Linked DNA regions of Homo sapiens: region 1 is reported to be linked to region 2. The links are microRNA targets in miRTarBase. Many come from high-throughput screens and were not tested one by one. Region 2 holds a microRNA gene; the other region holds the end of a gene's coding sequence.

Region 1 (3,000 bases), not on the chromosome of region 2:
CATATACTAAAATTGGAACTTTTAAAAATATTTTTAAAGCCCAGGATCTAGTTTTAGTCTTAATTTTGTTTTAGGTTTAGTTTAAAATTAAAACATTACGGGCAGATATATTTTTCTACACTTTAACTATATTTATTTTTCATGATTTCTTGCAGTTCTTGTCCATAAGCACACATATTACTTCTAAAATGTTAATCAAAGTCTGAGTATATTTTTGTTTTTTACTGTTAGCATTAATAAACATTTTTTCTTGTTGTTTCTTATACTTCATACTTATAATTGTTATTAGCTACATAATATTGCATTTGCATTGGGCTATTTACAATCTTTAACATTGTAGACCATGTTAATATATGTCATAGATACTAACTTTTGAATTCTTGTTGAAATAATCTTTTTCAGAAATGGCCCATGCGATCAAGATTGTACATCGGTGCTACTGGTCAGTTTCTGAAGCATTCTGTTTCTGGAGAAAAAACAAATCATGACAACACTCCAACAGACTCACAGCCTTAGGCTCTCCCCTGGTGGGGGCTGGTAGAAGTGGTGGCTATTGTTTTTAAATACTATGACATAATTCTATATTTATTATATGAGACATAACAAAATTTCTGAAAGTTTACATGTGAACCCATAGTTGGATGTTCAGGTTTATCTGTCTAAATGTGGAATGAAATAATCAGTGTTATATAAAACACACAGCTTATCTGTTCAGTGTGAGAGTCACTACTATATAGTGCAAGAGAAATTATTAGAAAAAAGTCACATGAAAGCAAACAATTGTGTATATAGCTAAAGAATGCAATATAGATATTGCTATAGTGTATCTATTACAAACAGAAAAGTTCATATCTATTGGTGCAGTCTTCCTAGTTTAAAAAGATAAAAATCTGTGTTTATAATATACGAGTATTCCTTTTTTGTGAAAACCATACTGTTCTTAAGTTGATCTAAGACACCATTTCAATTGAAGAAAACTGTTGCAGTAATATGAAGATGCAATAAATTCAATAAGTAGTTACTTTTCCCTCTTAGAAAACTTGTTTGGAGTATTAGAAATGGTTTGCTCAGAGGACAGGGCTTGGTCACCTTCCTAGAGGGTTATTCTGTATCTTACAGTGTTTGCAACTTGTGGAAGGCACTGGGAATCCCTGCAGTCCAGTGTGAACAGGAGACCAGGTGTCAGCGGACAGCAGAGTTCACAATGTAGGTGCATGTCACCACACCTGGCTAATTCTTTTATTTTTTGTAGAGATGGAGTCTCACTGTGTTGCCTAGGCTACTCTTGAAATCCTGGCTCAATAAATCCTCCTGCCTCACCTACCAAAGTGTTGGGATTATAGGCTAGAGCCACCGTGCCTGGCCCAGTTTTATTGTTTTAATGTGAATATACTCATAATGTGACAGAAGCATATCTTTTTGCAAGAAAGATATATAATAGTTCTCTACATATTAATATGTAGAAAAGTACTTGCATATTTAAATATTTGTAAACATATTTACCTACTCATGGAAAGAAATAAAAAGTAAAATGAGATTTGGATTCAGCCATTCACTATTATAAGTTATTGACATAAGAAGTGCTAAAAAGAATCTTTATCCTAAGGAATGAAATCAAAACTTCTTCAAAGTTACCTCAAACTGAATTGTAAACACTAAATTTAACAGCAAGAATTTCAGAAAAATGATTTTCTTGCTAATAATTCTTAAGATTTATTAGTTTGGCTAGTTTTTAAAGCATTTAACTGGGGAAAAAACTATGTGTTGAATAATTAGATTTCTAAGTCATCCTGTTAAATAGTTAGTAGAGCTTTGCCTTTGATGGTATTACTTTTTAATTCTTCTCATCCAGTTACAAGTTGTATTAATGCCAAAGAAGTGTATTTGTTACAGATTTTCATAACATTTTATTAAATTGCTAGATATGATGATAGGTTTTGGTATGTTTACAGAGGAGAAATTGCATATTTTCACTCAGATTCAAAAGAGCATGCTCTTTTAATGCTTTAATGGTGAATGGTCATGATAAGAGGTATTATAAAAATAAAGTACTAATTTGAAAATTAGTCTGTTAAATTTGCGTTTCTCTCTTTGGATATTTAACAAACACCGAAGCTACTTTTGAAAATCTTTTTAGACGATAGATACCTACTTGGTGTTAGCTTCTTTTTTACCGCGCTTTTTTTTTTTTTTTTTTGAGACAGAGTCTCACTCTGTTTCGCAGGCTAGAGTACAGTGGCACAATCTCCACTCACTGCAACCTCCACCTCTTGGGTTCAAGCGATTCTCGTGTCTCAGCCTCCTGAGTAAGTGGGACTACAGGCATGTACCACCATGCCTACCTAACTTTTGTATTTTTAGTAGGAGACAGGGTTTCACCATGTTGGCCAGGCTGGTCTCAAACTCCTGACCTCAACTGATCCGCCTGCCTCGGCCTCCCAAAGTGCTGGGATTACAGGCACGAGCCACGGCACCCAGCCTCTGTTGTTTTTCGAGATGGAGTCTCACTCTGCTGCCCAGGCTGGAGTGCAGTGGCGAGATCTCAGCTCACTTCAATCTCCACCTCCCAGGTTCAAGCGATTCTCCTGCCTCAGCCTCCCAAGTAGCTGGGATTACAGAGGCGCGCCACCATGCCCAGCTAATTTTTGTATTTTGGGTAGAGATGGGGTTTTGTCATGTTGCCCAGGCTGTTCTCAAACTCCTGGCCTCAAGTGATCCACCCACCTCAGCCTCCCAAACAGCTGGGATTACAGGCATGAGCCACCACTGAGGAAATAATCTAATACAAAACATCTCTTTACAGTGGCCAACATGATTCACTTAGAAATGAACACGTGATTTATATTTGTTATCATGACATGATAAGACAAGTGGCTTGTTGGCTCCATGTATAATTGTATTGTTCTTATTAGCTGGCAGGGAGAAGAAACCACAAATCAGACTGCTTCTGATCTCAATTTATATATTAGATATTTTGAGAGATGGCTTAATCTAAATGCT
Region 2 (3,000 bases):
GAATTTTAGTATCTTATTACATACTAAAAAAAATTTCTTTATGAAACTGAAGATCCCAGACAAATAATGCAATCGTTTGCATCTGAATCGTACTTTCTAGTTTCTGCCTCCACAGCAAAGGATAAAGCTGGGATGTGTCAGGTAGGCAGTGTATTGCTAGCGGCTGTTAATGATTTTAACAGTTGCTAGTTGCACTCCTCTCTGTTGCATTCAGAAGCACGCCCCCCAAAGAAATGGAAATGGTGCCATCTTGTGGACAATGTGGAGAAGTGGCATAAACCATGGTTCTTAACGTGAGCAATTTAAAGTTGATCCAATGTAGTACCTGTTCTCCTTGAAAGACCAAACCCAAAGGTCTTTAGTGTCTCCTGTAATCAGTGTAAAAGGAAACAAATTTAAATGGTTTTATAAACGTGTTTCATAAAGAGCCTTCATCTGCTTTAAATCTCTGTCACCATTTACCATGCTTCTCTCTAGGCTCAATAGTTCATCTTCCTTTGACCTGTACGCAGAGATTCTAGTTCCAAATCCACCACCATTTTAATAGATTTTTCTAGATCTTATATAAATTTTGCAACTAGGCACTGTGGCTCATGCCTGTAATCCCGGCACTTTGGGATGCTGAGGCAGGAGGATCACTTGAGGCCAAGACTTCAAGACCAGCCTGGACAACACAGGGAGACCTTGTCTTTATAAAAAAACTGCAAAAATTAGCTGGGCATGATGACATGTGCCTGTAGTCCCAGCTACTTGGGAGCCTGAGGCAGGAGGATTGCTTGAGCCCAGGCGTTCAAGGCTGCAGTGAGCTATGATTGCACAACTGCACTCCAGCCTGGAGGACAGAGCCAGACCCTGCCTCTTAAAAAAAAAAATTCAGTATTCAAGTGGTAACATCCTATATTGAATACATAATTGCATTTTCAGAACTCGATTACTAATGTCATTTCTAGTAGGAGAAAACTAATTGCATTTAAGCCCTTACATTTCTTAAATACTTTAATGTTGATTTTTTCCCCCAAACACTGCTGCAGTTTTGTGTCGTGCACAGCTTATGTATTATCACGACTCCTAGATATTTTACTGTCTAATACAGACAAGTAGTCTTTGGATCAGTAAACAGAAGTGATTTGAAAAGCTATAGTTAAGTAACTTTTTATTTATTTTTTTGAGACAGAGTCTCACTTTGTTGCCCAGGTTGGAGTGCAGTGGTGCAATCTCGGCTCACTGCAAACTCCAGCTCCCGGGTTCAAGTGATTCTCATGTCTCAGCCTCCTGAGTAGCTGGGATTACAGGCAGCACCACCACGCTGGGCTAATTTTTGTATTTTTAATAGAGACGGGGTTTCACCATGTTGGCCAGGCTGGTCTTGAACTTGTGACCTTAGGGGATCAGCCAACCTTGGCCTCCCAAAGTGCTGGCATTACAGGCATAAGCCACTGCGCCCAGCCTACAGTTAAGTAACTTTTAAAATTCATTTGTACTGTAGAACATATTTTTATCCAAGCATTTAATTTGGAAAACCTAAATGTAAGTATTCTGAAAGTTTTAAAGTTTTTGTTTAACTTTTATGTTTTTGACTAGATTCAAGCAAATATTGATTTTATTTCTTATAGTCTTGAAGTAATACATTTTGTGTATAAGTTTTCTTTAATGTGACTATTAAGATTAGAGTTCTGCCACTATGTTTCATGTTACAAATTTAGCCTCAGTGACTGCCTGGGCCACGAGAATCGGCAGTGACCTGAATCAGGTAGGCAGTGTATTGTTAGCTGGCTGCTTGGGTCAAGTCAGCAGCCACAACTACCCTGCCACTTGCTTCTGGATAAATTCTTCTTGTCAATGAAGTGCTCTGGATACCTGTGTGTGATGAGCTGGCAGTGTATTGTTAGCTGGTTGAATATGTGAATGGCATCGGCTAACATGCAACTGCTGTCTTATTGCATATACAATGAACATCAGAGTGTAACTGAATCTGTAATTAGTGTGTGTTTATGTGTACTTTCTGCTATGAAGCAAGCCACTATTTACCATAATATATTATTGCCATTAGCTTATAATACAGTAATACTTACAATGCACAGTTTTATAATGGTAAGGAAAGTATTACAATTACTTAAATTTTTTCCTTTTAAGAAAAATTTACTTATGCCTGCTTTTCCATAACTAAAAATTTTTAAGAAATATTTTTGGAGTCTTTGGAGTCTTTCGGAGTAGACAGTGTTTAAGTATTTATGAAATTACATGTTTTTAACTATAAGGTTTAGAATGTAATAACAATGTGGAATGGACCTACAATGTGTCCCCAGATTTTCAGTGAAGTCTTTAGGATTCTTTCTGCATTATTAGTTTCTTTCTTTTTTTTTTTTGAGACGGAGTCTCGCTTTGTCGCCCAGGCTGGAGTACAGTGGCGCGATCTCGGCTCACTGCAAGCTCCGCCTCCCGGGTTCACGCCATTCTCCTGCCTCAGCCTCTGGAGTAGCTGGGACTACAGGCGCCTGCTACCATGCCCGGCTAATTTTTTTGTATTTTTAGTAGAGACGGGGTTTCACCGTGTTAGCTGGGATGGTCTCGATCTCCTGACCTCGTGATCCACCCGCCTCGGCCTCCCAAAGTGCTGGGATTACAGGCGTGAGCCACTGCGCCCGGCCTCTGCATCATTAGTTTCTAAATACAGCATTAGAATTGGTTTCTATAGCCATGACTGTGTGTGTACCAACTGAAGGGAAAGTTGAGGTAATTTTCCAGATGAGTCAGTCAACTAAAACATTTTTCACTTGAAATATCAAGAATATTGGGGATTTTTTTTGGGTGGGGGATGGTTTACATTTTTTTGGAAGATCTACCTCAATCCTTTCACTTCATTTTCTGTAAAATCACAGGTTCATGAAATATTTGGAAGACAGCATGAGATCTAACAACTTGTGAAGTGGGAAGAACTGACCATACAATATGACCTTAAATATATTCTCATTACCTTGGAGGCATTTTGACCCACGAAGT

Evidence for each region. The annotated mature microRNA hsa-miR-449b-3p reads CAGCCACAACUACCCUGCCACU and lies in region 2 at 1,792-1,813, shown strand. An mRNA with a match to its seed (bases 2 to 7 or 8) in the 3' UTR can be bound and repressed. Matches are read on the target gene's strand: a 7mer-m8 pairs with bases 2 to 8, a 7mer-A1 pairs with bases 2 to 7 and ends in A, and an 8mer does both.
Region 1: miRTarBase lists TCF24 as a target of hsa-miR-449b-3p. Seed matches in the 3' UTR shown: 7mer-A1 at 547-553.

Annotation. Positions count from the first base shown.
Region 1 is chr8:66,945,567-66,948,566 of GRCh38, reverse strand. It overlaps TCF24 (transcription factor 24), which reads left to right. Exons shown (of 4, transcript NM_001193502.2): 4 at 403-2,066. The coding sequence ends at 516. Among named protein-coding and RNA genes, the nearest start is that of TCF24, 16 kb to the left of the region's middle.
Region 2 is chr5:55,169,480-55,172,479 of GRCh38, reverse strand. It overlaps MIR449B (microRNA 449b), which reads left to right and starts at 1,738; the gene lies at 1,738-1,834. The region is part of intron 2 of CDC20B (cell division cycle 20B); the gene reads left to right. MIR449A (microRNA 449a) reads left to right here and starts at 1,858; the gene lies at 1,858-1,948. It overlaps MIR449C (microRNA 449c), which reads left to right and starts at 127; the gene lies at 127-218.